3 separate regions of the Homo sapiens genome follow, and all the other regions are linked to region 1. The links come from fine-mapping of genetic effects on gene expression. A gene starts in region 1. Each other region holds a variant in brackets. All regions are shown on one strand. Distances are from middle to middle.

Region 1 (10,034 bases):
GCTGGCTGGTCATGTTCTAGGTGGAATAAGCATTTCGGCAAACCATGTTAGAAAACCTGCAACAAAGTAACCCCTTTAAGTAACCCCTCAGCCCACAAAAAACAATGTTTTAACAAAGTATCGGGCAGGAGGTGTTCAAAGAACCCAGCTGAGCAAATGGGAGGCCTGACGTCCATCTCTCGATTCCTTTGTCCTACACTTCGTTTCGGGCTAGTGTAGCTAGTGTCCTTTTCTCATTGTCCTTTTCTCATGAAGCCCAAAACAAAAATTTATAAAGTGGGATGGAGTAAAACCAGGAAATTCAATGCCAACAAAACAACTGATTACAGGAGTTAAGTCTTAATTTCATACATTATAATATTAAGTGATACGGAGCGATACTTAAGAGATTAGTCTGTCCTCACCCTTAATTTATATCCAAAAAAGAAAAGTTGAAATTGTGTTGAAAACACAATTTAGTCAAGTTCTTTACAAATGAAACCTCACTCTGTCTCTTCCTGGACTTAGGTTAATAAGAATAAAACGAGTTCTGGCCGGGCGCGGTAGCTCACGCCTGTAATCACAGCAGTTTGGGAGGCCGAGGCGGGCAGATCATCTGATGTCGGGAGTTCAAGACCAGCCTGACCAACATGGAGAAACCCCGTCCCTACTAAAAATACAAAATTACCCTGGTGTGGTGGTGCATGCCTGTAATCCCAGCTACTCGGGAGGCTGAGGCAGGAGAAACGCTTGAACCCGGGAGGCAGAGGTTGCGGTGAGCCGAGCTCGCGCCATTGTACTCCAGCCTGGGCAACGAGTGTGAAACTCCATTTCAAAAAATAAAAATTAAAAAAAAAATAAAACGAGTTCCCTAATTTATTTACAAATTTACCTTAGTTTGGATTTACTTAGAGGAAAAGAAGGAAATAATTTTTCTCAAGATCTACAAAATATAATGTTTCTATCAAAGATAGACCTTGATTCACCTGTTACCAATTTTAGTAAGACTGGAATAAAAAAGAAAAAAGGCTGGAAAAAAAACAAACAAAAAAACAAAAAACAGAAAACATGCTGAGCCTTTGGGCGACTGCTAATCCTACATCCCTGTGGTTGTTCCCTGCATCGGCCTATTGGCTGGGTCTGAACCCTGAGGGCCTTTGCTCCAGCCTCTGCCGGAGCACGGGGAAGGTGTTCGGGGCTTAAGGGCAGGTTTTTAGGGCACGTGTTTGGGGTAAGTGTGCTGGGCACACAGGCAGGTGTGTGGGCACGGAGGAGGTGTGCAGGTAGGTGTGTGGGATGCGCAGGCAGGTGTGCACGGCAGGTGCACGGGCAGGTATGGGGCACGGGCATGTATGCAGGACGCAGAGCAGGTGTGTGAAGCAGGTGTGCAGGCACAAGACGTGTGTGTGGGGCATGGGCAAGTGTGCCGGGAATGTGTGACGGCAGACGTGTGGGGTGCGAGGTTGTGTGGGGGCACACGGACAGGTGTGCAGGCAGGTGTGGGGCACGGGGAGGTGTGCAGACCAGGTGTGTGGGGTGCGGGAGCGAGGCAGGTGCGCGCGGCAGGTGCGCGGGGGCGAGTCAGGAGCGCGGGGCACGTGTGTGGGGTGTGGGGCAGGTGTGCGGGGGCGGGGCAGGTGTGCAGGGCAGGCGTGCAGGGGCAAGGCAGGTGCGTAAGAGCGAGGCAGATGCGCAGGTGCGCGGACCAGGTGTGTGAGGTGCGGGGGCAGGTGCGCGGGGGCGGGGCAGGTGCGCAGGAGCGAGGCGGGAGCGAGGCAGGTGTGCGGGCGCGGGGAAGGAGCGCGGGGCAGGCGGGCGGGGATGAGGCAGGTGCGCCGTTCCTCCACCCCACGACCAGGTGAGGGCGAACGGGGAACTGCCTGAGCTCCGAGCCCGGAAGCTTCAAAATCAGAACGAGGAAGGTCGGTGAGGAGGCCACGCTCGCGGGACGGGGGCAGGAAGCGCAGCCGGAGCTGCAGATCTCGGCCGCGCCCCGCGGGCTCCAATCCCGAGCGTCCCCCGCACGCGCAGCCGCGCTCGCCCGCGGGGCCTAAGGGCTGCTCAGGGCGGAGACCCCGTAGGTGAGCCCGAGAGGCGGTGCGGGGCTGCGAACCCCGGAGCGAGAGAGGACTGGAGGGCGGGGTGAGGGGACGCGAGGACCCAGCCTGCACGGCGGGGCACCCTCCCCGCTGGCACCTACCACGTGGGCCTGCATGGCCTGGCTCTCCTCGGACGCCCCGCCCACGCCGGCTCCGCTCATCCCGCCGCTTCGGCCTACGGCGCCTGCGCGGGCGGCACCAGGAGGCGGGTCTGAGGCCAGGCAATCTCCGATTGGTGCAGAGCGGCGTCCATAGGGGTGGGCCTCCCGGAGGGGCGTGGAAGGGGCGGGGCTGCTCGGCGCGGGGCGGGGCCGGGAGGTCGCCGCCTCAGTCTTCCGCCCTGGGCCACGCCCCGGTCCCGGGTCACCTCTCGGAGCCGCCTCCTTGGCCCGTGGAAGCCTCCTGCTCTCCCCTAGGGCGCGCGTCACAATCTCTGGTCCCCCGTAGACGCCGCCGCGGGGAAGGCGGGGCTGTGCGAGGGCGCCGCGCTGCAAACCCAAGCCAGGCGGCCTGGAGTTGCTGTAAAGCCTCAAGCAAGGCTGATATGTAAAAGGTCGTTGCATTTCACCCGGGCTGTGGGCTGTGCTACTTGACCGGGGAGGACGAGGGGACTGCAGGGCGTCCTTTCAGACAGACGCGGTAGGGAGAGCAGGGCGTGCAGGACACTTGACGGCCCCAGGAGAGGGGTGAGGCCCTGACCCCACCGGGGTGTCATCCAGGAGGAAGGGTGCCCGGGGCGAGGTCCCCCAGGAGAAGTGCCCAGGCCTGAGGCCTTGACCCCACTGAGATGTCCCCCCAGGAGGAGGGGTGCCCGGGGTTAGCTCCCCTAGGAGGAGGGGTACCCGGGAGTGAGGCCCTGACCCCACCGCGAGGTCCCCCAGGAGGAGGGGTGCCCAGGAGTGAGGCCCTGACCCCACCAGGAGGTCCTCCAGGAGGAGGGGTGCCCAGGAGTGAGGCCCTCACCCCACCGTGAGGTCCCCCAGAAGGAGGGGTGCCCAGGAGTGAGACCCTGACCCCACCAGGAGGTCCCCCAGGAGGAGGGGTGCCCGGGAGTGAGGCCCTGACCCCACCGCGAGGTCCCCCAGGAGGAGGGGTGCCCAGGAGTGAGGCCCTGACCCCACCAGGAGGTCCCCCAGGAGGAGGGGTGCCCGGGAGTGAGGCCCTGACCCCACCGCGAGGTCCCCCAGGAGGAGGGGTGCCCAGGAGTGAGACCCTGACCCCACCAGGAGGTCCCCCAGGAGGAGGGGTGCCCGGGAGTGAGGCCCTGACCCCACCGCGAGGTCCCCCAGGAGGAGGGGTGCCCGGGAGTGAGGCCCTGACCCCACCGTGAGGTCCTCCAGGAGGAGGGGTGCCCGGGAGTGAGGCCCTGACCCCACCGTGAGGTCCCCCAGGAGAAGGGGTGCCTGGGGAAAGACATGACCTCAGTAGCTCCGGGTACCCTCCACCTTTGCCCTCATTTCCGCCTCCGCATGCAGCCTTGGGAACTGCAGGGCTGGGAACCCGGAGAAGGCGGCCGGGCTCTGGGGGAGCTCAGAGGTGGCCTTCCCTGCCAGGAACACAGGCCAGGCCCCATCCCTATCTAACCTTATACTTGAGGAGCACAGAGCGGATATCTCCAGATTTGAGTCCTGAACGCGCGGCCGGGAACCCCAGCAGTTCTGAACTTGTCAAGGGAGCAGCCTGCCATGAGGGGTCTCCCAGGCGGCTGTGAGGCCTCTGGAAACTCCCTGCTTGGAGGAGGTTGACTGGGGACAGGGCCGTGGGGGTCAATAAAAAGGACTGCTGCCATTAGCCCTGGGCTGCCTGCACACAGAGATTAAGCCCGCTTGGGATTTGTTCCAGCTGATCTGAAGTAATGAGTAATTCACAATTAATGAGCATGGCTGTAAGCAGCCCTTCCTGGACAAATCCTTGGCTGTCCAAAACTAAGATTAAATGCAAATCATTCTGTCAATTAACCGTTACAACAAAGCCAAACTTCTGTTAAGCATCACTTCATAGATGGTTTTTTTTCCCTTAAATTGCCTCCTTGTTTGCAAAGCCTGTTTTACAAGTGGACTGCTTAAGTCACATGAGTGAAAATGCAGCCTTATTTACCGTTCAGCAAAAGCTATCTGAGAATTTGCTTCCAGGGACTTCATGTTCTCCAGAGGTTGGGGTACTAGGAATCATTTCATTGTAAAGGACTCAGTAAAAAGTAGCCCTGTAGCTGCCAGAATGCGCCGTAGGCTCATGATAAGGTAGGTGGTAAGGGCCAGAGGTCAGGGGTCACAGATGGCTTCTGCCCCTCCACAGCACATGGTGTCCAGAACTGGGCTTGCCTCTCACCTTCCTTCCTGTACATTTCCTGGTGCCAGAAATTTGCTTTTCACTGACTTCCCCCTAATTCAAATTTGATTAGAATCTCCTTTTTGGGAACATTCAAAGTGCCAAGGTGCGTTTCAGAAATGCAGGGTTGCAGAGGTGGGGTCCTGAAATCCAAGGGTGGTGGGGCCTGAGATCACTGCCCTCGCAGTAGGAAGATCCTCGGGGAGAGGTCAGCAGAGGGCCCGGACAGAAGGCACTGACACTGTACCCTGGAGAGAGACAGGAAGGAGGACCTGGGGCCTCAGAGCTGGCCGGGTGGAGATCGTGTGGTCTTCGTTCAGAGGGAAGTGAGGTGCTGATGAAAGATGATTGACGTCACGTGGGCACCAGCAGAGGAAGTGACACAAAACGCCCCACAGCTTTGGGTTCACTGAGTGGGCAGTTGTATTTATTTATTTTATTTTATTTTTGTAGAGATGGGGTCTTGCTGTTGCCCAGACTGGTCTCGAGCTCTTGGCCTCCCAAACTGCTGGGATTACAAGTGAGAGCCATTGCAGATAGCCAGTTTTCTTTATTTTTAATTGTTGTTTGTGCAAAAGGTTTTGGCGAATACTGGCTATATTCAGAGGACTCAGTACCAGTTGCCAGGGGCCTGGAGTAGGTGCTGTGGTCTCAATGTGTGTGTCCCCCCAAACCATATGTTGACACCTAACCCCCAAGGCGATGTGGTTAGGAGATGGAGCTTTAAGGAGGTGACTGGGCCGTGAGGGCTGTCCTCTCATGACGGACGAGTGCCCTTCAACGAGACTTGAAGGAGCCCTTCTGTCCCTTCCTCCACGTGAGGACACATAGAAGGTACCATCTCTGGGGAACAGGCTGTCACCAAACACCAAGTCTGCTGGCGCCTGGATCCTGGACTTCTCAGCCTCTACAACTGTGTGCAATACATTTCTACTGTTTATCAATCACATGGTCAGAGGTATTTTGTTACAGCAGCACAAATGGACCAAGACATCAGGTCTCCAAATCGAAGAACTTCTCAGCAGCCTTCAGTGCTGGGTGGGGAGACAGAGGTTCCCTGCAGGTCCCCACAGACAGTGTTAGACTCAGTGCTGGGTGGGGAGACAGAGGTTCCCTGCAGGTCCGCACGGACGGTGTTAGACTCGGTGCTGGGTGGGGAGACAGAGGTTCCCTGCAGGTCCGCACGGACGGTGTTAGACTCGGTGCTGGGTGGGGAGACAGAGGTTCCCTGCAGGTCCGCACGGACGGTGTTAGACTCGGTGCTGGGTGGGGAGACAGAGGTTCCCTGCAGGTCCCCACGGACAGTGTTAGACTCGGTGCTGGGTGGGGAGGTTCCCAGCAGGTCCGCACGGACGGTGTTAGACTCGGTGCTGGGTGGGGAGGTTCCCTGCAGGTCCGCACGGACGGTGTTAGACTCGGTGCTGGGTGGGTTGACAGAGGTTCCCTGCAGGTCCGCACGGACGGTGTTAGACTGGGTGCTGGGTGGGGAGGTTCCCTGCAGGTCCGCACGGACGGTGTTAAACTCGGTGCTGGGTGGGGAGGTTCCCTGCAGGTCCGCACGGACGGTGTTAGACTCGGTGCTGGGTGGGGAGACAGGTTCCCTGCAGGTCCCCACAGACAGTGTTAGACTCGGTGCTGGGTGGGGAGGTTCCCTGCAGGTCCGCACGGACGGTGTTAGACTCGGTGCTGGGTGGGGAGACAGAGGTTCCCTGCAGGTCCCCACAGACAGTGTTAGACTCGGTGCTGGGTGGGGAGGTTCCCTGCAGGTCCGCACGGACGGTGTTAGACTCGGTGCTGGGTGGGGAGACAGAGGTTCCCTGCAGGTCCGCACGGACGGTGTTAGACTCAGTGCTGGGTGGGGAGACAGAGGTTCCCTGCAGGTCCGCACAGATGGTGTTAGACTCGGTGCTGGGTGGGGAGACAGAGGTTCCCTGCAGGTCCGCACGGACGGTGTTAGACTTGGGGGACACTGGGTCCCCAGTAAGAATGATTCTGATGTGAGTGCAGCTAGTGAGGGCTGAGTTCAAGCTTTAAAGACAAGAGCCCAACAGGTTCCTTCAACAGCCTGATCCCCTAGACCTTCGTGTGTCCAAGTCTCCAGAGGGGATGAACCTCAACAGACCTGGTTCGACCTCCCCTAGGCAGTGGGTGCTGCCTGGAGGGCAGGGTCGCTCGAGACTGTAGGAGACTCTGCACGTGGTGACCATAGCACCCCCATAATAAAGCAGCCCGTGAGGGCAGCCTGGCTGTTCGGCGATGTGTGCACTGAGGTCATCTCTCCTACTCTGTCTCAGCTATTTAAAGGCTGTGACTCACCATGTGGATTTAATGACTTATTAAGGAGTTGCAGCCCATGCTTTTTAAAAAAGTAATCTACAAAAAAATAAATGAAAAAGTCTTCAGGACAGTAGACTTAAGTGCGGATGTGGTCCCTCGAGTTCCATTTTTCAGCCGCCCACATTCCTGGGATTCAGACCTGTTGGGGATTGTAGGATTCTAGTTGCACAGGGAAACCCAGAGTCAATTCAGGAGGATAATTCTGAGCCAGGGGTGGGGGTACCGGCCTGGAGCTCCGGGGGGTACGGGCTGATCCTACGAAAGGAAAGTCAAGCCTGTGAATTGCAGAGCCTGGACAGAGAAGTTGAGGTGACGGCGTTCTGCAGATCCGTGAAATTCTATTACACGTCAGAGGGAAGGGACGGCCTCATGTGGCCCCTTGGAGGGACCAAGCCCTACCCAGCGCCTTGCCCAAGTCAGCACGCAGTCAGTGTTGGCTCCACCCACCTGCACCGTCAGGCCTTCTGGAAAGAGAAGGAGATCCGACTGACGGAGCGTCTCCAAACTTCCAAGCAAATATTACCTCGTTAAAGCCCAGTGCCACATGACTGACCTGGAGCCACAGCCTGCCCTCCTTCCCTGGGCCTACAGGAAGGGGGAGGTTCCTGTCACCAGAACCGTTCCGTCATCAGCCGGGCAGATGCTCGCTGTGGATTCTAGGTGAGCATCAAGTACTAGGGACCATGTTTGTCTTGGATTCCCCCGTCCCGCCTGAGCCCAGAACGCAGAGCCGGAGTCAGGGGCTTGCACATGGAGCGTTTCACGCCCAGGAGGCTGGGGCAGGGGCCAGGAAGGAGCGGGGAGGGGGCCAGGACCAGCGTGCTCTGCTGAGGGTCCACATCGAGGGCTGGACCCTGGACCTCCACAAGCCTGGAGAATTCTCCATCCGAGCAGTGAGGAGCCCCTGCTTGTTGTCAGCTGGAGCTGCGCCTCGGGGCTTCTGCTGTCCTGGCCCTGGGGTGGTGACTGCAGGATCCCACAGGTGTCCCGAGGCCTGAGGCTCTTCTCACTGCAGAGGCCACCCTGCAGGAATTGGAGTTAGGACCCGGAGGGTGGGACAGGCTGACTCAGAGGAGCCAGCTCTCAGGTTGGCAGGAGGAGGAGATGCACAATGAGACAGCAGCCTCACCTCCAGGGGACGGCCCCGCAAGCCGGAGCTGCCCTCCTGCACACTCAGCACTCAAGGTGGATTTGGAGGTGACCTAAGCCCACAGCTCTCCAAGTCTTGGGGAAATCTACAGTGGATGGCAGGTGCCTGCGGACGCCGAGTGGGTGCGGCCCCAGTTATGCTCAATGCAGGGGCACCTGTGTTGTTAGCAGCTGACGTGGACGGGAAAGGCCTGTGCTGAACAACGTTCCGTGTTCAATTAGACACTCTCCTCCTAAACAGGGGCGGAAGACGTCTCATGGGGGTTCCAAGCGTGATTTATGGAACTCACTCCCATGAGATAACATAACATTTTTCACACGTGGGAGAAAGGGCTGGGCTCGACTGGTGCCTGAGTGAATGCTGAGGATAAATGGGAAGCAGGACATTCCAGGGCACCTCTGCGTCTTGCATGAGACCTTGTGAGGGCCCTGTGGTGCCCCTGATGTCACTGTCGAAGGTGGAGCCGCCCCCGCTCTGCCTCGGCCTCCCTCAGATGTCCTCCCCAGCTGGCCCTGCAGCGCACGTGGAAGACAGCTGCCGAGAAGCAGGTGTGATGCCAGCCTGTGGGAGAAGCCACATCTGGACAGTGCGTGAAGCCAGTCCAGGGGCCACACCGGGACCTGCCCTCAGCTCTGCCACGTCCTGGCCAAGTGGCCTTGGCATGCCAGCCCTGGTGTCCACAGAGGCATCCATTCCTCATGGCAAAGTGGAGTCAAGTCGGCTGATGCAGGCGAGACACCTGGCCGGCCTGGGGAGCCGCACCAGCGCTCCCCACATTGCACTGCTGACTGAGGGGTGCTCGGTGCCGCGGCTTCACACGGTCAGTGCACAGACATGAACGCTGGACTGAGAAGCCGCCGCGTGCACCTGGCCCGCCAAGTTGCCAGGGAGGCAAGGGTGGTGTTGACGTGGATCACCGAAGGAGCTGGCAGCCCAGCCGTCCCCGTGACTGGATGGAATCCGCAAGCGTTCCTGGGCATCCACTCTGGGAAGGGCTCAGTGCCAGGGCCTAGGGTAGTTTTCAAATTGCAGGTTGTGGCCAGTATACCAGGGGTCATGGGGTCAGTACACTGGGCTCTGACTGGCAATTCCTAAAGATGAAGTGTGAGTCTGTCCCATATAGTAAGAGCTGCATTGATTTGTAAAGCTTGTGTTGGTTTTGCACGTTCTATGCCAGTGTGTGCTGGACCGTGATAGAAAGCGCATTTCTCGCTGTGGTGCCTGCCGTAGTCTGGAGGGAAAGATGAGTCCGTGGCTCTAATGTGGGGTGGTGGGTGTGGTCTACACAGGGAGAGCGAAGAGCCCACATGGGGCATGAGAGGGGCCGGAGAGGCTGGGGCAGGGGAACCCGGGCCAGGTCCTGAGAACAAATGGGGTTATTCAGCTCCTAAAGGTGCAGGACTCAGCCCAAAGTCCCTGGTGACCCAAAGAGGACCATGTGAGTCTGATGTGGCTGTGGAAGGCGGGGCTCACAGCAGGCTGCCGGGGCACCATTAATGGGGGAGGGTCCTGTCCCCAGCGCATACGTAGACGGCCCTTCAGAACCTGCTCAGTGGTCAGTGCGGCCGTGCAGCTGCACCCCGGCCTGGTCACCTGTGCTGTGCCCAGCAAGGAAGATGCCCCCGCTCAGCCCGTCCATGCACCCTCCAGAGGCTGTCAGCTGCCTGAGACCCACACTGGCTCTTGCAGGCTAGAGGAGAGTTCAATGGCCATTCGGGCCCTGTCGCCATGGAAACACCAACTTTGGGTACCAAAAGCCTGAATGTACAAATTCATGGAGTATGACCTGCCTGGTGCCAGTGGGTCTTTGCATTTTTCTGGGGTGCCAGTGGGTCTTTGCGTTTTTCTGGGGTGCCAGTGGGTCTTTGCGTTTTTCTGATGCCCTCTGAACTCTTAGGTCCCGGTTCTGGCGGATTTGGCCCAGGCACCCCCAGCCCCCAGGTAGGAGGCACAACCCTGCTCCCAATGCCCAACACCTGCCCCCAATGCCCAACACCTGCCCCACACACCTGAGGTACCTCCTGGGCGTCCCACACCAGGACAGGCCTGGAGACTTCCAGCCACTGCCACCTGGCACACCCAGCACCTGCAGATCCACCACCTTAAAACCCACCTCTACTGCCCCATGTCACGGTCCCTGC
Region 2 (10,034 bases), 110 kb before region 1:
TTACGAGATTTAAATATTTTATTCCAACCTGTGTAATAGGGGTCTCCTCCTCCTTGAACTGTCCCGATTGGCTGGGGTCACGTGGTGAGGGTCCTGGGTGACCAGGCCTAGCCTTGGCCACATGAGTCCACACAGTGGAAAAGGCTTGGCTCCTGTGGTCGGCACACACGAGACTCTGGTTGCGCCTGCTGGGTGTGGAACAGGCGCACCATCGCCATGCCTGCAGCTCACAAAGCTCCTGCTGGCCTGGGATGCACTGAGGATGGAAGGAACAAGTGGCTTCTGAGAAAAACATGATGAACTGTTCTTAGTGCAATTAAAAGAAGATTCCAGATAAATGGCATTTTAAGACATGGAGGCAGGTCGATTACCCACCCAGACCCATCAGTGACACTATGTGGCAAAGCAGTTCTTCTTTTAATGTCGGTCTAACTTAGCAACCCGAGGAAAGTGGATCACTCCACTGGCCACTGCCTCTTTCCCACTGGATCCCATCCATCACTGGGGCACTTGTGCTCACCAGACACCTGGTGGCCTGGAAAGCCCTCTTTCAGCAGCCGTTTCTGGAGCCCACCAGGGTCCAGGTGATAGAGTTTGGCAAGGAACCCCTTGCTCACATGATAGCTGGGGCAGACAATAGCAAATGAACAAGCAAGCACCATCAAGGCAGGCAACACTGAGTGCTATGAACAAAGATAAAGTGGGCAATGGAATGGCATGTTGGGTGTTGACTCCGAGAAGGTGTTCAGAAAACCTCTCTGAAGGGGCAGCATTTGGGCAGAGGTCCAGACTGTGTCCAATGGCAGAAAAGAGAATGCTTGTGGTCCCAGAAGTGGAGCAAGCTTTGTGAGTTTAGAGAGCAGCAAGAAGCCAGTATCCCTGGGACCGGGGAGCTGATGTGGGATTTGTGTACCCACAAACACGTTCTAGGTGCTAACCAGAAACCCTCCATGTGAGAGCAGAGACCTTGGAGATCCTGAGGGTTTCTGCTGAGCCCTGGAATCTAGTCACGCTATTTTGATAGCAGAATGGATGAGAGAATTTAAGGCCCAGGGCCAGATCTAATGGACCACTATATAAAGCTGGGACCCTAAATAAGTCTTTTTCAAAGGAACAGCAGCAAGACTCTTATCTCAATCTATCTCCCCTGAAGTGGCCTGAATTAATACTACCTGTATGATCCCCAAAACTCCTAAAGTGGAAAATTTGATTGACTTGGCCCTGACCAGTGGTATTCCCAGACAAGGGCAGAAGATGCAAATACAAAACCTCTCTGGTAGAATGTAGGCTATAATATGAGTACATTTTTGAAAAGGGCTAGAAATGATCAAGAAGAGATTAGAAAAAAACAGAGCCCCTAGAAATGTAAGAAGTGAAATGAAAAGCTCAATGGATAGCTTAGACACAGCTGAAGAGAGAATTAGAAAACTGGAAGATCTGAAAACATTATCCAGAGAACTGGAAGATATGACAGCAACATCAAGAGACATTGAAGAATGTCTAACCTTTGGGTAATTGGGGTCTCAGAATGAAATGAAATGATGCAGATATTCCATACTGACATGCAACAGTCCCCAGATACAGAAGCCTAACAGTCTCACATTTAGACCTGCCACAGTGAAACTGCAGAACTGTAAGAAGGACAGAGTGATATAAACGACTACCAATTTCCCAGCAGCAGCACTGGAGTTGAGCAGTGAGTAGACCAAGGTCTTCATTATGCTGAGAGAAAATAGCTGTCAAGTTGCTTGAATTGTGCCCACAGCATAACATTAAAGAAGAGAACAAAATTAAGTCATTTAGATAAAAATATGCCATTCTTATCTGTTTGGTTTTTTAATCTTGGCTTAATATTTGGGGTTGAGTCATTTGTTTTGAGAGCTGTCCTGTTTATTGCAGGGTGTTCAGCAACATCCCAGATGGAAGCAGCATCCCCCTACCCAGCTGTGACAAAAAGAAAAAAAAATGTCTCCAGACACTGCCAAATATCTTCTGGGGGTGCCCCTGGTTGAGAACCACTGCTTTAGTGGATAAACTTTAGGCAGGAGGGAAATGATCGCAGTTGGATAGTTGGAGGAATGTGGAGCAAGGGAAGCAATAAACTGTGACCATAAAAACATAGAAAGATGGCTTATATGTGGATTTTTTTTTAAAGCACGTAGAATTGCTTAAAATGGACAACAGCAGCATATAAATCAGTGGCAGAGTTGGTGGCTGAATTTAGAGCATCTTAAGTCTATGTTCTCCTGGAACAGAGTGCAGATAATTCAGTTATCAGCTTGGCTAGGTGCATGTTGAAGTATTTAGTCACACACAAACAGTTAATGTATGGGGAAGATAACTTCTATACTAGTAGGAGAGAAATGGAACAAGAATAAAAAATACACTATCAAAATATGCAAGAATGGCAAGAGGAAAAGGCAGAACAAGCTGCAAAACACACACACAATTAGAAATAAATATTTTGGGACACAATAAATGTGAATGGATTAAAACCTCTGTTAATGACAAAGTTCTCCAGTTAAAGGAAGGCAAATAGTGTTATTAGGAATAGATTACTATATGATGATTAAAGGCTCAGTTCAACAGGAAGATGATTGATAGAACTTTCCTACATTTGTAACACAGTCTTAGAAGATACTAAAGCAAACATTCAAGAAGAAATTGATCACCTACTACCATAGTGTATTTTATTGAATTGGTACATTTCAATAAAGTGTCATAAGGCACGGTTGAAGGAGAAAAACTTGACCCAATGGACAGTTACAGAACCCAAGTGTGTGTGTGTGTGTACACAGAAATTTTAAAAATGTTTTTAAAAACATCTCTTTAAAAGAAATAATGAAAATTATAAAATATATAATGAAAGATAAAAGTTAATCAAAACAGATAGAGTTCACCTAAAGTGGTGCTTAAGCGATTCTGAAGTCGTGAATTATACATTACAGAAGAAAGGCTGGAAATTAATGAGCTGAACATAAGCAGAGGACTAACTGTAAAGAAAATTAGAATAAGAGCAGAATGAAAAGGAAATGAAACATAATAAAGAAACAAACCCAGATGGTTCTTCGGTGAAAAGACCCACCTGGGAGCAGCTGCCATGGGTCCGTCAGCTGAAGTGAAGGAAGTCCTGGCCCTCCTGCAAGTGCAGTGACCTCAGGTTGTCCTCAAAGGCGCCCCCTGTGAGGTCCTGTCAGGAGCAGCAGATTCAGCTCAGTCCGGTCTCCTGGCTCTAGGAGGCCACTGTGGAGCCTCCTCCAGGGCCAGGGGTTGGGGGTGGCCTGTGTCCACCTGTCAAGTGTTCTGCTCCTCTGCTAATAGCGGAGAGGCTGGAAGGAGACAAAGGCCAGAGAGGGCAGCAGCCGGCACTGCTTGTACCACAGGCCCTGTTGGTCACCAGAGGGGAGGCCCCCCCTGCCTTCTGGCCTTGCCTCTCTACATAAGGTGGCTGACTCTCCCTGGGGGCACTCGGAATGGAATGAGACTAACAGGCAATGCCTCTGCTGTTTGACCAGGGCAGACCCACCTTCCCTCCACACACCCACCCCTCTGCACAGGCCAGGAGTGGGAGGAGGCCCCTCAGACAGAAACTGCATCTCAGAACCATCAACAGCTGCCCCTGTCTGATCTCCTCTGGCCTCTGTCATCCCCACCCCTGCAATGGAGTGAGGGCTGTGACCCCGGGTCCCTGGATGCTTAATCTTGTCCTGTGTGCTGGCCTTGGCCAGGTCACCTACTCTCCTGTATGAGGCCACAGCAGGTGTCCAGAAATGCCTTTCAGACGTGCCCTGCACCCCAGCACCTCCTGAACAAGTTCCTGAAGACAGCCCGGCAGAGTGGTGGACACAAGTCTCTGGCCTCTGGCAGGACAGAGGAGGGACTATGCATTCCTGTCACAGTCCTTGGTCCTTGGGCCCAGCAGGAGGAATCGGAGCTTGGCTGCGCCCCTTACCCCCACCACATCAGAATCCATTACACCACCTACCACTGCTGTCACTCAAATGATGCTGTCACTCAAAGCCATCCTTCCTGGAAAACATTTCCACACACTCTGCCGCTATCTGTCCTTCCTCCCTTGTCTCTCTGCTCTAGAGTTTGCAAAGGAAACACACCTGAGTTCAGGGACCAGGCCAGCCCAGTGCGTGTTGACACCGTCTTAAACAAGACTCTGTTAAAACTAGATGCTTCTGTAAAGCAACATGTTCCATTAGGAGAATGAAAAGGCAAACCACAAAATGGAGGAAGACATTTGCAAAACATTAAACCAACAAAGTCGAGCAGCCAGAGGTGTAGGGGACTCCTACAGGTCAGGAGAGACGCAGCGTGCAGTAGGCCGGTGGGGAACCCTGATGAGAAACACCGCCAGAGAGGAAGGAACTCCAGTGTCCAGCGGGCACGGGGGGTTGTTGGTCAGACTCACACCTGAAACCACCATGAGAACACACTCCCCAAACGGCTGGCGACCAAGTGCCCAGCCCAGTGTGAGGGAGCCGAGCAGCTGGGCCCTCTGGCTCTGGGCATGTTCCTGGGCATCATCCAGAGAAGCTGAGGATGCAGCCACACCCACGACCTGCCTTCCACTCCCAGGATTAGACCCGAGGCAGGGATGCTCACGCAGGAGGACACAGCGTCCTTGCAAGGGCAAACCGGGAACCACTGCCCACAGGCCTGGGTCCTGGCGTGGCCTCTGGGTGGGGTGGCGTTTGCACACGGGACGTGGAGAAAGTCCACACCATGCACAGCGATACGCAC[A/G]CACCCCAAACACGTGGAGTGAAAACCAGATGCGAGAACACAGACACTGGATTCTGCTCACATGAACTACAAAAATAGGATAAATTAGACTATGGTTTAGGGATGTGTTCACGCACACGCCATGAGGGTTGGCCCTGCCAGGTGCCAAATGCACGTTCACAACCAACATAGACGGCATTTCGTTCCTGGAAAAGCAGTGATGTAAACGATGTTGGGACAATTATCCAAATAGAAAAATTGGCATCTGTAATCAAAAGAAATTCCAGTTGTATCAAAGATGTAATTAAAAACTAGAAATCCCAGAAGCAAAATGGGACAATGTTGTTTTTTAAATTTCACAACCAGGAGTGATTGTCTTAGAATGAATCAGACTCCATAAATGAAAGTCACTTAATTTGATTATATCACAATGGCAAAAATACAAAAATATCAAATGGCAGGAAAATTTGCAGCATGTCGGAGAGTTTTCCTTATGAAAAATACTGACCAATAGAAAAATGGGCTAATGAAAATAATAATTTACTGAAGGGGAAATAAAGCAGTTTATAAATATGTGAGAAGATGCTTTCCCTCCCTTTAAGGGCACGAGGCAGGTGCTCCATCGCTGGTGGGTTGGGTTGGCACAGCAGCTGCGGGTGGTGAACAGCCAGACTGGGATTGAATGTGTGTGCTCTTTGACCCAGAAATTTTTAGAATTTATTCCACACAGAGCCACTTGAGCGAAATTATGTATATATACAAATACTGCAGCAGCATTTTAAACAGCAGATGATTAAAAATGGCCAAAAGGTACATCAGTAAGTAACTGTATCACAAATGCATGAAACATCCATATAATCGAAGAGCGGGTGTTTTAGTGACAAACGTGAACCTTGGGTTTCTCTTTACTCTTCCAGCTAACGGTGGAGGAAGGCACAACAACAGTGCCACCGAGGTGCCCTGAGACCCGCAAGCTGCTCCCGCCAAACGGAATTGCAGGGGAGCCTGATGCGGCCTCGGTCTGACCACCTCTCAAAAGGATGGAGCAGAACACGCAAAACCACAGGGAACCGGTCGGCAGAGTGCAGGATACACAAGCCCATTCTTCAGCTGAACTAAGAAAAGAGCGTCGGCGTCAGGGAGACAGAAAGGTCATGTCGTAAAGGTCACACGGACGCTGCCGGGTTCCAGCAAGCAAACTTAAAACATGAAGCAATTTATAAGGCAATTAGGAAGATTTGAACATCGATGGGATATTTGGAATTCTGTGGTGGGATGGTGGTTTTATGGTCCTTTTAACAGTTTTTATCTCCTTGAGATAGGGAAATAATAATGGATGAAATTAGGCTAGAATGAGTGCCACAACACCAGCGTGGGGATTTGGAGGTGTGGAGGACACATAAGATGGACACGCTTGCTCCAGGGATGGGTACATAGGGCTGGTTTCCTGTCACTTTGCTAATATGGCTCAAATAAGCTGGAAATTTCCCTGAATAGAAAAGTCACAGCAACAGTAGAGCCCGGGGGCTCCAGCGGCTTCACACGGAATAACCTCCAATCTACACACGTGAAAAGAGCAAGAGATGGAACAAGCATGTGCTGTGAGGCCACACTGCCAGCTGCCCCTGGAAGAACAAGCAAGAGACAGGTGACCGTGGGGGCTCTGGGCCCTCCAAGGACACAGCGTGTGCAGGACAAGGAGGAACCTCTTTTCCCATGCTCAGCCGGCTCCCTGGGAAGGGTTTTCACCAAGTGCCTTGGGGTTCATATGAGTGCCCCAAGATAGTAGTGACACCACAGGTCACCATAACACATACGATAACAGTTTGACATATTGCGAGAATTACCACAAGGAGACGTGGAGTGGGCATGCTGCTGGAAGAGCGGCACTGACGGGGTTGGAGAGGGGGTCCCTGAGAAGTAGATCCTGAAGAGGCTGTTTCTGAAAAACTAAACCAGATTCGTGTAGAATTTGCATTTTATAACTGCTTCTCGGAGCCTCCCGTTTACTCACCTAAATGTCCCCGGTAACTTGGACAACGGTTATTCAAAGGTTTTCATTACTTTGCTCAGATCCATCAGAGCAATCACTATCTTTGGCGGCTACGGCCTTAGAAAACGTCTTTCTCCAATAAGACTGGAAAGTTGGAATGACTCCTGGACCCACGGTCTGCAGAACGGATGCTGTGTCAGCACAAAAACACGAACCCCTCGTACATCAGCCTCAGAGCTCCTGGGTGACCAGGTGCACCGTCAATGAGCAGTCGTATTTTGAAAGGAATCTCCTTTTCTGAGCACTGGGCCTAACGGTGGGCTTACACTATTCCATCAACCGTGCTGTGCACAGATGTGCTGCCACCTGGGCCTTGCCGTTCCATTTCTAGAGCCACAGGCAGAGCAGATTTAGCCTCATTCCTAAGAATCCTAGGATTCTCAGAATGGCGACCACTGCCTTCAACTTAACCCATTTATGGCTGAGGTTGCAATTTTTCGAATTTTTGCAATCAGATCTTGGCAGTGACCTTAAGCAGAATATAAACTTGCACATGCTTAGCGTTCCAATAATGGAACACTAGGCATAGATGGGTTTTAAAGTCACGGCAAAGAGTCAGACTGTCTTTTGAAGCTCTGAAGCCAGGCATTGACTTCTCCCTACCTATGAAAGGCCTGCATGGTGTCTTCTTCCAGTTCAAGGTTGCTTCCTCTACACTGAAGATCTGTGGTTGAGTGCGGCCACCTCCATTGTGACCGTAGCATGATCTTCTGGAGAGCCTGCTGCCTCACCTCACACTCATATTACGGAGACGGCTTCTTTCCTTAAGCCTTGTGGGCCAACCTCTGCTAGCTTCAAACTTATGTTCACAGCTTCCTCACATCATTCAGCCTTCACAGAATTGAAGAGAGTTGGGACCTCGCTCTGTATTAGGCTTTGGCTTAAGGGAATGTTGTGGCTGGTTTGATCTGTCAGACCACTAACACTTTCTCCCTATCCGCACTATCATTTGTGTGTTCACTGGAGGACCACTTTTAATTTCCTTCAATAACTTTTCCTTTGCATTCACAACTTGGCTAACCGTTAGGCTGAAAGCTGGGCCTCTCCTGCCAGTCGTGGCTTTCGACATGCCTTCCTCACTAAGCTTAAACATTTCTAGCTTTTGATTTAAAGCGAGAGACGTGCGACTCTTCCTTTCACTTGAACACTTAGAGTCCACTGTGGGGTTATTAGTTAACCTAATTTCAATGTTGTGCCTCAGGGAATAGGGAGGCCTGAGGAGGGGTGGGGTGGGGGGGAGCGGGGAGGCGACAGCTGCTGTCAGAACATTCGCATTTTATCAATCAAGTTCACTGATTCATATGGGCGCCCCGAGATAGTAGTGACACCACAGGTCACCGTAACACATACAGTAACAGTTTGACATATTGCGAGAATTAACACGTGGAGATGGGGAGACGTGGAGACGTGGAGTGGGCGTGCTGCTGGAAGAGGGGCACTGATGGGGTTGCTCTCGTGGGGCTGCCACACGCCTGTAATTTATAAAATGCACAATGAAGTGCAATAAAATGAGGTGCGCCAGTAGTTGCCAGAAAGCTGTGCCCAAGAGGCTCTGCTCACGTTGTTCTGCCTGGACTTGACTTGGATTAGTTGTGTGACAGCTCATCACAGGCCGGGCAGTGTAGACCAACACACGCTGGCCTCACGGCTTCTGCGGGGCAGGAACCGTGACCCGCCCTGGTGTGGCGTGCTTCTAGCTGTCACAGGTGCCCATGTCTGTGTGTCCCCCACAACCCCCCAACAGTACCGCTTGGGGCCTGGCTCACTCTATCAACCACTCACCCGTGGTTATTTACCAAGAAAATGCAAAGCAAAAAAAGCAGGGGTTGCAATCCTAGTCTCTGATAAAACAGACTTTAAACCAATGAAGATTAAAAAAGACAAAAAAGGGCATTACCTAATGGTAAAGGGATCAATGCAACAAGAAGAGCTAACTATCCTAAATATACACACACCTAATACAGGAGCACCCAGATTCATAAAACAAGTTCTTAGAGACCTACAGAGAGACTTAGGCAACCACACAATAATAATGGGAGACTTTAACACCCCACTGTCAATATTTGAGACAGAAAATTAACAAGGATATTCAGGACTTGAACGCAGCTCTGGACCAAGCGGACCTAATAGACATCTACAGAACTCTCCACCCTAAATCAACAGAATATACATTCTTCTCAGCACCACACAGCACTTACTCTAAAATTAACCACATAATTGGAAGTGAAACACTCCTCAGCAAATGCAAAAGAACAGAAATCCTAACAGTCTTTCAGAACACAGTGCAATCGAATTAGAACTCAGGATTAAGAAACCCAAAATCGCAGAACTACATGGAAACTGAACAACCTGCTCCTGAATGACTACTGGGTAAATAACAAAATTAAGGCAGAAATAACGAAGTTCTTTGAAACCAATGAGAACAGAGAGACAACGTACCAGAATCCCTGGGACACAGCTAAAGCAGTGTTAAGAGGGAAATTTATAGTGCTAAATGCCCACATCAGAAAGCAGGAAAGATCTAAAATCGACACCCTGACATCACAATTAAAAGAACTAGAGAAGCAAGAGCAAACAAATTCAAAAGCTAGCAAAAGACAAGCAAGATCAGAGCAGAACTGAAGGAGATAGAGACACAAAAATCCCTTCAAAAAAATCAATGACTGGTTTTTTGAAAAGATTAACAAAATAGACCACTAGCCAGGCAAAGAAAAGAAGAATCAAGTAGACACAATAAAAAAAGATAAAGGGGCTGTCACCACTGATCCCACAGAGATACAAGCTACCATCAGAGAATACTATAAACACCTCTATGCAAATAAACTAGAAAATCTAGACGAAATGGATAAATTCCTGGACACATACACCCTCCCAAGACTAAACCAGGAAGAAGTCGAATCCCTGAAAAGACCAATAACAAGTTCTGAAATTGAGGCAGTAATTAATACCCTACCAACCAAGAAAAGCTCAGGACCAGATGGATTCACAGCCGAATTCTACCAGAGGTACAAAGAGGAGCTGGTACCATTCATTCTGAAACTTCCAAACAATAGAAAAAAAGGGACTACTAACTCATGAGGCCAGCATCATCCTGATTCCAAAACCTGGCAGAGACACAACAAAAAAAATTTCAGGCCAATACCCCTGATGAACACTGATGTGAAAATCATCAATAAAATACTGGCAAACTGAATCCAGCAGCACATCAAAAAGCTTATCCACCATGATCAAGTCAGCTTCATCCCTGGGA
Region 3 (10,034 bases), 18 kb after region 1:
CGGAGTCCTGGGGGTCCTGGGGAACCCACCTGAAGCCCCCCCTCGTGGCCCCTGTGGCAACACTGACCGGGCCTGACCTGTCCCCTCGTGTCACACTGACCGGGCCTGACCTGTCCCCTTGTGTCACACTCATCTTACACTGTGCTTTATCTTGTTACCCTGCAGGCATTCACCTCAACCCCTCCCGTCCCCTCTGGGATGAGCCGGGCCACAGATAAAGGCCTCTTAGCGGAGCTACGAAAAGGATCACTTTAGCCCTTCTGGGAAGGAGGGATTTAGGTTAAGTCAGCTCAGCTTAGATTCCAAAAGACTAGGACGGTCAGCCCAGGACCCAGGCATTTGGGTGACACAAGTGCTTTCCGGCCGGGAGAGCCACAGGCTGTGCAGGGAAAACTCAGTTGCTTTTGCTTTCTGAAGTTCAGGGCTTCCAGCTGGACGTTTTTGGAAGTGCGGGAAACACATGAGGTTTCGCTAAAGGAATGAAGCCTGAGCCTCCACGGGGATGAGAATGACCCAAGAACCTCCCGAAATCCCACCTGCAGGAGGCGACAGCGGGGGCGACAGCGGGGGTCCCGGGAGGCGACAGCGGGGGGCGGCAGCGGGGGTCCCGGGAGGCGACAGCGGGGGCGGCAGCGGGGGTCCCGGGAGGCGACAGCGGGGGTGACAACGGGGGTCCCGGGAGGCGACAGCGGCGGTGACAACGGGGGTCCCGGGAGGCGACAGCGGGGGCGGCAACGGGGGTCCCGGGAGGCGACAGCGGCGGTGACAACGGGGGTCCCGGGAGGCGACAGCGGCGGTGACAACGGGGGTCCCGGGAGGCGACAGCGGGGGCGGCAACGGGGGTCCCGGGAGGCGACAGCGGGGGTGACAACGGGGGTCCCGGGAGGCGACAGCGGCGGTGACAACGGGGGTCCCGGGAGGCGACAGCGGGGGCGGCAACGGGGGTCCCGGGAGGCGACAGCGGGGGTGACAACGGGGGTCCCGGGAGGCGACAGCGGCGGTGACAACGGGGGTCCCGGGAGGCGACAGCGGGGGCGACAGCGGGGGTCCCGGGAGGCGACAGCGGGGGCGGCAGCGGGGGTCCCGGGAGGCGACAGCGGGGGGCGACAATGGGGGTCCCGGGAGGCGACAGCGGGGGGCGACAATGGGGGTCCCGGGAGGCGACAGCGGGGGGCGACAACGGGGGTCCCGGGAGGCGACAGCGGGGGCGACAATGGGGGTCCCGGGAGGCGACAGCGGGGGGCGGCAGCGGGGGTCCCGGGAGGCGACAGCGGGGGCGACAATGGGGGTGTCCTCCCAGGGTGGGATCCGTGGGGGTTGCAGGTTGGAACTCGGGTGCTCCCCCCATGGCACGCGGGCCCAGTAAGCCCAGCCGTGGGGGCTGCCGTGGTGGAAATCGCATCTGCATGTGAGGACAGCAGGACCCAGCACCTTCCCGCGGTGACCCCAAGAGGCAGGGCTGGCGGCCGCCCTGCCAGAGTCCCCCTCCGGACCTAGAGGAGGCATCTCCCTAATTTCACCTTTTTCAGTAGAAAAACATCCCCGAGGTTCACCTAAAACCCCAATTTTTCAGGAAATGGTTGAGGCTGCTTATCATTTGTGGAAATCACGTGTGCACAAGTAGAGAGAATGCAGCGGGGTGGGGACAAAATGAAACCCAGAGAACTTGGCAGGTCCGCACACAGGCCTGACCCCTGTGCTCCTAGGGGTGCCCGGGATGGGTGCCGTCGTCAGCCCCATGACGAGGGTGACTGGGTCAGGTGTCAACCCCCACGGGCAGGGCTCTGTGCCCACCACCCCATGCTGTCGGAGCAGCCCGAAGGTGGCCAGCGCTGAACATGGGGTCCCACCCCATCCTCTCTGAGAGCCGGGCTGGGCCGGGTGGGGGCTGGCAGGGTCTGGCTGTTCTCAAACAGGTCCTTTCTCAGAAGGTGCTAGAAACTGTGTCCCTCACCAAAAGCTAACATGGGTGCCAGAGCTGGGACAAGGGCCAGTCCTTCCCCAACCTGCTGGGTCTCCCACACGCTTCCACATGCTCCCACACACTTCCACATGCTCCCACACGCTCCCACATGCGCACACACGCTCCCACACGCTCATACATGCTCCCACATGCACACACATGCTCCCACATGCTCATACATGCTCCCACATGCTTCCACATGCTCCCACACGCTCATACACGCTCACATATGCCTGTCATGCCCCTTTGTCCAGCGGCTTCTCATCCCTCTTCCAAGCCAGGGAAGGAGGGTCAGGGGCTGTAGTTGCCCCTGTAGTTGTCAGGCTGTGGGCACAGAACCTGCCAGGAGGGGTCTACCCTGAAGTGGACGGGGCCCATGTGGTGGGAGCCGCAGGATGTGAGAGGCAGACACCCAGTGCCGAGGTGAGCCACGTGGGATGCCTCCCGTGAGGACGCTCCAGCCCTGATCCTTCCGGGTCCCCACTGCTGCATGACAGCCTTTGCTGGTGCACAAGCTCACAGCCCCCGTGTGTGCAGGGCTGGGAGGGAGCGTGCTGGGCCCAAAGGTGGCCGGGACAGTCTGCCTCAGGGCTGTGGTCAGGGGCACGGGCTGGGACTGCCCCACTGCGGAGGCTTCTGGCGGACGGGGCGCGGGGAGTGGACGGGACAGGGACGGCTCCCCCCAGCCCAGCCGGTCAGCGCGGGCCTGACCTCCACTTTGAGCGGCGGCTTGGCCTCTGGCCTCTCAGGGTCCCTGCTGAGCTGTGCTGATGACTCCTCATTCGCAGGGGGGGAGGCTGTGGGGCCTTGGGGGCCTGAGACACCTAGAAAGGGTCAGGAGGGGACCACGGGGTGGGCAGGGCTGGGAGGTGGCCCAGCAAGCAGCCTGGGGACATTCAGATGCTGGTCACTCAGGGAGCTGGCAGCCGCTCTGCCTGCCCCTCACTGGACTTGAAAGCAGTGAGAACAGACGATGCCCAAAGACGCCCACAAAAGCGCTTCCTGTTGACATCAACACACTCTTAGGCCTTTCTCCTCCGCGCCCTCCAAGGCCGGCATCGCCCAGGCGACCACTGGACCACGAAAAATAAAGTCATGCCCCCCAGCCCCCACTCTGCCACTCATTATTTTCCTGTTGCCTTGTAGTGGACTCAGCTATGGTTTGTTTTTTGAAATTGAGTTTGAAATCCAGATCCTGCCCCACAGGCACTGGCGCCAGAGTCGCGGCTGCTGACCAGAGCTCTGCAGAGTTTTTGCTGGAAATTAGAGTCAAAATGGAACCACTGTGGGCCAAATCCCATGCAGGGCTCTACACACATGCACACATGCTCAGAGGCATGCACACATACACATGAGCACACACACACAATGCACACTCGAGCGCACACACGTGCACACAGGCATGCACACATACACATGAGCACGCACACGCTCACAATGCACACTCGAGCACACGCACACGTGCACACAGGCATGCACACATACACATGAGCGCACACACACAATGCACACTCGAGCACGCATGCACATACACACGTGCACACACGACGCCCAGGGAGTCTCAGGGAGCCTGTACCAGCCCTTGGACAGGGCCAGGAAGTCAAAGGGGAAATCCCTCTTTTCTTTTTTCTCTCAGAAACCCCGAACAACAGACTTTGTCAATAAGCATATTCACTTTTGTACTTAAAAAGTATGTTTTTAAACATTTTAATTAGCTCTCTAGACTCAAATAATCATCTTCTTCACCTTGTTTTCTCTGTGACACGCAAAAGGCTGGCAGGCAGGAGGCTTCTCAGAGTCAGGAGGGCTGGGGGGGAAGGTGCTGTCCACCAACATGTTCTGGACAGGACGCAGACACCAGGCGCCCCACGGCCCTTCATGCTCCGGAGGGTAGAACAGAGCCAGAGGGTGGTGAGGAAGGGGCAGATCCTGGTGGCTGCAGCCACTGCTGTGAGGGGACGGGGACAGGGCTGCTGAGGTCGAGGCAGGGAGTGGGGAGGCCGGAATGGGAGGCCCATGCTCCAAAGTACATAGGAAGCTGGAGCTTCCCTCCCACTGAGCTGGGCCATGAACCTGCCCACGACTCTGTGGGGTTGGCACCATGAAGTCGCTCTCAGATGGGGAGCTGGAGGGTTGATCGCCACCAAGTCACGCAGTTTAGCAGTGGGCACTCCTCGAGCCAACCTGCACCACCTCACTAAGCCCAGCATGGGCTCCCAGTGCCCCTCGGCCCACCTCCCTATCAGCCACGCCCTGGGCCTGGCCCCCTGAGAGGCCCCATGAGGCTGCAGTTGTTTTCTGGGTAAACTGTGTCCCCCCCCATCATTCATAACAATCTCTCTCTCTGTCTCCTTCCCTCTCTTCTTCCCTCCATCTTTCCTCCCTCCCTTCCTCCTTCCTTTTTTCTTTTTTTTCCTTTTTAAATAATTTGTTTTCTCATCATAATAGCAATACCTAGTCATTGTAGAAAAATTGGGGACGATTAAAATTCCACCGTGGAGTCGAGGGGAGACTTCCCCTGGCTCCTGTCACTGTTGCCACACTGCATATAAAGATCTGTGGTTTTGTTTCTTCAGTTCACGTGACCTCATCGCTTTACTCTCTCACTGGAGTCCCTTGTGAGCCTGGTGACAGCAGCCTCATGACCCCAAGCTCTTCCACGTGGGGTCAGGCTGCCCCCAGCCTCCTGCCCTGACTCCTGCTGGGTTGGGTCTCCTTGCACCCCCACACAGTGCACAGTGCCAGCTGCTCCTTTTCCTCACCCTTGCTTGAACAGTTGTGCACGCATGTAGGTCACCTCTTCCAGGCAGCCCTACAGGAGTGCACCCCACCAACACTGACAACCCCCCAGACAGTGCTTAAAGACTGAAACTGCCAGCTAGGATTTGGGGAGGGGTCCCTGCCTCTGTGGGTCCTGTCTGGCTCTGGCCCAGGCTGACAAGGAGGAGCATCTATGCGGGGAGCTGGTGCGGTGCGGGGCATGGTGGGGTGTGGGGGCTGGAGGGTGTGGGGCGGGGGCGGAGGGGGCTCAGTCATCTTTCATGAGCCTGAACTGAGGCCCAGGACGCACAGTCCACCATCCTGGGTCTGGACAGCGGGTCCCTCTGGGCCGTCTCACTTCCGCAAGCTTCAGCGGAGGCACAGCTCTGGCATTGGGGCTGCAGGGACCTCCTGGCACCACTGGGAGTAGAGTGGAGCCCCGGCACAGGCCTGGCCACCTCTCCAGGAGAAGGCACATGGGTCCTCAGGTCCCTGTTGGGACAGCTGGCGCCAAGGCTGGGCCCGCACGTTGCAGCAGGCAGGGTTGGGGTAGGGTGCTCAGCACCTGCCGTGTGGACGGGAGGGACCCCTCCACTCCCGAGGAGAAAGCCCACCAGCTGGCCTCGCTCCTGCCTGCCTGGAG[G/C]GGCTTCTGGAGGGAGTGTTTCCTCCGCCGAGTCCAGGCAGGCATGGCTGGAGGAAGAGCGTGAAGCCAGCATCCCTGGGTGACCCTGTGCACTCCAGCTTGGCTGGATTTGGGGAGGCACACCCAGGCCCTGCCCCACCCCCGCCTTCACTTGCTCGGGCCCCACCCCGCTGGGCCCCTATCTACTCGACACTGTGGGGGTCCAGTTCTCTCTCCAAGATCGGCCAAGTCCACGTGACCTGGCCCCCGGACGCTCCCTGCACGCCCAGCCCCACCGACACCCTTCCCCAAACCCTGGAGCCTGGGGACGCAGTGGGGTGTCTTGGCACACAGGTGACTCGGGAGACAGATCCCCTGACCCTGCCTGCCAGTGTGCCTGCCCACTGTCCGCTGAGCTGGGTGTCGCCTGCTTCTCCTCGTTCTGGGTGGGACCGTCTGTCCAAATGGCTGTCAAGGCCTTCTTCACTATCTCAGCGTGGGCAGAAAGGGACGGACATGTGAGACAGCTGCCCTGTGCCTCCAGCGCCCCCGCATCCCACGCACGCTCCACAGCCAGAGCTCTCAGCCCCTCCAGCTGGGGGCAGCTCTGGGCTACCCGGCCTCTTTTCAGGGGCAGGACAGCCGGGCTAATTACCTGCATGGGAGGGCCCCACTGGACAGGCTCCTGGTGAGGGTGTCTACCGCCACCCCCGCCTGCCTGGGCTGAGTCATCCAGGCGCAGCGTCGATGTGGGGAGGGCCTGTCCCTGGGGCTGTCCGTGGAGACTCGCCCTGTGGACTGGAGGAGGAGGCAGAACCCCGCCCGGCGGGGCAGGTCCTGGTGGTGACTGCGCCGACCACGGTCCCGCCCTTCCCCACGCGCTGGGCAGCTGCCCAGCCCGGTCCAGGTTAGGTGCCCCAGCATCTGGACGTCCACCCTCCCCGGGACACCCAGCCCAGTGGGGTATGGGAGGAGAGAGCTCTGTCTGCCCTCAGCTTCCTGCAGTGTGGCTACTCCAGCCCATCTGACCCTGGGCGGTCCCCGGTTCCCGGCTTAACAGATGTTGACAAGGCCTTGCCTCCTTCGGGGTGGTGCCAGGGGCAGAGGGGCACAGCAAGAACAGGGCACAGCCCCTCGCACACCCCCACGTGCCTCCGCTGTCGGCAGGCCCCACTGGGGTCTGGGAGATGCCTTCCTGTAGCATGAAACCAAAGGCCACAGAAGCAGAGAAAAAAAGCTCTTCGTTTCGATTATAAACTTGCAAGAAAAAAGGAGCCCAAACTGTTCAGTGAGACACGCCGACCGATCTGAGCCCACGAGGAGCCCCAGGCAGCAGAGCCCCCTCTTTCTGTTTATTCTAGAGGGTGGCCAAGGTGGCCCTGGGAGAGGTGCCTTCCAGAATTCAGATGCCAGTGGGGCGGGCTGCCAGGAGGGCCACGGAGCGGGGCTCTGGTCTCTGATGCCAACCAGTGAACCCTGGGAGGGACCACCCTGTGCCCTGCCCAGCCTGTCAGAGGGGGCCCAGCCCGGTGATGAGCAGTCAAGTGTGGGGCCCACGGGGAACAAGGCGGCGTGCATTTACTCTATGGAGGGGCACCGTCTCCACACGGCAAGCTGGGTGTGCCGACGGCGCTGGATGGCACCATACGTTGTCCCCGTTGAGGGGTGACTCCTGCTCCCATGATTAGGGCCAAAGGGTCACAACCTCTGCAGCTCCCACGTGGCTCAGGGGAAATGCCAAAACAGAGGAACAGCCCTCGGCCGCAGCCGGGGGATGCGTGGGTGCCCTGCACACTGGCCTTCAACGTTTGTGAGTTTCAGGCCTTCGGTAGTTGGCATATGGGACACTCCCTCTCCCCGCAGGCCGTGGGGATACCGGCTCCTTCCGAGGCGTTTCTGCCGTGAGCGTCCTCCAGAACGAGTGGGCTGAGGCCCTCGGCTGACGTCCTGGGTGACCGCAGACCTGCTGTGTGTGGCCGGCCGGCCGGACCTTAGCACGTCATCACTGGGCTCACGGTCCTGCCCCTGAGCACATCTGACCGGCCGTGGTCAGGGTCCACGCAGACGTCCACCTCTGTGTACAAATCCACCGTGTACTGTAGATGGCCCCTCCTGACACCACCCCGCGGAGGCCGAGGACCCTCCTTCCCTGTGGGGTCTGAGTGCCCGAGATGGCAGAGTCACTACAGCTCACCAGCCCTGGGGCCATGGTCGGTTCATGGCCGGGCGGAGGGTGAGATGCTGCCATGAACAGCTGCTACAAACAACTGCTAGGACGGTGTGGGGCCAGCGTGCCACACAGAACTGTCTCTCACTGCCGAGCTGGCGGCTGGTGGCCTCTCTCCACCTGGCCAACCTGGGGGCAAGCACCACCCAAGGTCACATAGCCGGCCAGCATCGGCCTGGACTTGTATCTGACTCAAGGAAACTCCCTACTCCCACTTTTCTCTGACGCACAGAGAGCAGCACATGGCAGCAAATTAGGTTAAGGAGGGGGTTAGGGAAGAATGACACACTGAAGGTCATCAGGTGGAGGCTGGCTGGCATCCGTGGCTGTTTCGTGTAGTAATTACACGTTGCTCATTGAAGTTGAGTTACAAGCACAGGCTCTCCATGTATCATTCAACCACAATTACGATAATTACGAGAAGGTTGGCGAAAATGGCCTGGGAGGGAAACGGGTGGCAAATGACTTGGGAGGTGGTGGTTGGGCGGGGCCGTGGGATGAACTGTGCTCACGTGAACGACAGACTGCGACGTTCTTCAGTATTTTTCAAATGCTGAAAGAGAAAATTTCATGGACGCGCTTGGGGAAACCGTGTGATGTTTTTCTGGAGGAATCCAGCTACTCTGGGAGGAGCTGTTTCTTTAGTGAGTGGATTCAGGTGACTGGTCATCTTGGGCAGCACATTGGCCGTCAACACACATTTGAAAACCTCAAGACTGGGCCAAAAATAAAAGCAGTAAAGTCCACCGGGTTGTGCCAGTGGCTCAGAGAACTCGCAGCTGTGGGGAGCACGGCGGGAGGGGTTCCCCCCACCCAGCCCCATGAGGGCCCCAAGGCCTGATGACAGCCCGGTGGTGCCTTGAACAGGTGAGAATCAGCCCCCACCTGGGGACGTGGCGTTGAATCCTGACATCGTAAACCCTACGACGCCCTGGGAATCAAGAACAGATCCACTTTGCAGGTAACTGAGGCTCAGAAACAGACTCCAACCCCACCATGTCTGTGACCCAGAGCTGGGGGCTGACGTCCGAGCCAGGTCCGTCCACCACCCCACAGGGCCTGTAGGCACCCGGCATAGGAAAGGCCGAGAAAGGGGTCCAGTCCCACAGCCCTCCACCCCAGCAAATTCCCAGGTGCTGGGTCCCTGCAATGCACGCGATAAAAACTCCCGGGTCAAATACACAGAGGTGACCCTGCCGAGGTCACTCGATCCTAACAGTGGGTCGTGGTCCTCGGACATGGGAGGCCACGTCCTGCTTTCTGAGGCCTCAGACCCTGGTGAGGCACAGAAGGACTGTCCAGGGTGCACCCAGAATTTTTTTCACGGACGTCTGCCCAGGAGGCTTCTGAGAGCTGTTTCTCGAGGGAATGGATAGATGAGGAAAGAGAGAGGGTTGATGTAGACCTACGGTTGGGCCACAGGCCCCCCTGGCCCAGGTCCCTTAGCTGCCATCTCCCAGGATGCAGAAGCATCACTGCAGGGCCCGCCGGTAGAGGGAATGGGCAGGCGTGATCCTGGTGGGTTCTGGAGCTCTCCGATTCCACGGCTCAGCCTCAACGTTCCGACTCAGGTAGGAAGTATCAGAGCTTCACGCAAAGCTGCGAAGACCAGCTCCTTCCCACGAGTGGGTGGGTGGGATGATGCTGTGGCCCCTTCCTGGGTCTAACCCCGTGACATGCTCACTGGGAAGCAGTCCCTTCCCAGACATCCAGGGACAAACACACCCAAGGCCCTTTCCTTGCAGACCCTCCCAGAGGACCAGGGGGAGGGCCACACACCATGACCAGCTGGGATCCTTTTGGTTCATAATCGGCCTCTCGGGGTCTGGTGGTACAAGGGGCAGTGTACCAGTGGCTGGGAACACCCCCAGACAGCCTTGACCACCTCAGCCTGCATCCTCTAGGAGCCTGATACCTCCTGACACCAGGAACCCCGTCTACAGGGGACGTCTCACCTGTAGGTGGCCTCGCTGGGCCAGGACAGGGGTCAGCAGAGGTGCCCAGGAGCACCCAATGTCTCTGGGGCATGAACCTCCTCAAGGGAACAGCTTGGGGAACCACAGCCCCAGGGTGGAAAGGGCCAGGCTCCTTTCCCAAGACAGATTAGCTTCTTCCGAGAATACTGGCCAGCAAGCATTCTTACTCTAGTTTTGTTTTGTTTTAATTAGCAGACTTAATGTTTTAGGTTTACAGAAACACCAAGCAGATGGTAGAGGTCCCCCACACACCCTCTCCCTGACCCAGTTTCTCTTATGATTACCTTCTCTCATTAGGGTGTAGGCGTGTGACAGTCAAAGAACCAATATTGATCCGTTATTATTACAAATGTCTCAAGCCTCCATCAGGATTCACTCTTGTGCTGTATTTTCTACGGGTTTTGAAAAGTACACGTGGGTCCCATACTCACCATCGTACGATCCCAGTCTTAGGACAGCCCGCTGGGCACAGGAGGCTGGGCATCC

What was found. PIP is the estimated chance that this variant, and not a neighbour inherited with it, causes the effect. A credible set is the group of variants that fine-mapping cannot tell apart.
Region 2: its variant is the best candidate, but not a certain one, in a credible set for the expression of QTGAL in tibial nerve (GTEx, PIP 0.81).
Region 3: its variant is the best candidate, but not a certain one, in a credible set for the expression of QTGAL in whole blood (INTERVAL, PIP 0.60).

What each region holds. Positions count from the first base shown.
Region 1 is chr17:83,049,558-83,059,591 of GRCh38, forward strand. It overlaps QTGAL (queuosine-tRNA galactosyltransferase), which reads right to left and starts at 2,213. Exons shown (of 13, transcript NM_001009905.3): 1 at 2,180-2,213. The coding sequence starts at 2,194. LOC124904094 reads left to right here and starts at 1,630. Exons shown (of 4, transcript XR_007065967.1): 1 at 1,630-1,688; 2 at 9,791-9,834.
Region 2 is chr17:82,943,794-82,953,827 of GRCh38, forward strand. QTGAL (queuosine-tRNA galactosyltransferase) reads right to left here. Exons shown (of 13, transcript NM_001009905.3): 12 at 3,086-3,190; 13 at 1-256. The coding sequence ends at 3,110. It overlaps TBCD (tubulin folding cofactor D), which reads left to right. Exons shown (of 39, transcript NM_005993.5): 39 at 1-2,121. Among named protein-coding and RNA genes, the nearest start is that of QTGAL, 100 kb to the right of the region's middle. The variant A/G (reference allele first, on the strand shown) is at 4,753.
Region 3 is chr17:83,067,604-83,077,637 of GRCh38, forward strand. No RefSeq gene overlaps it. Among named protein-coding and RNA genes, the nearest start is that of METRNL, 7.0 kb to the right of the region's middle. RefSeq lists an enhancer at 2,037-2,589. The variant G/C (reference allele first, on the strand shown) is at 5,367.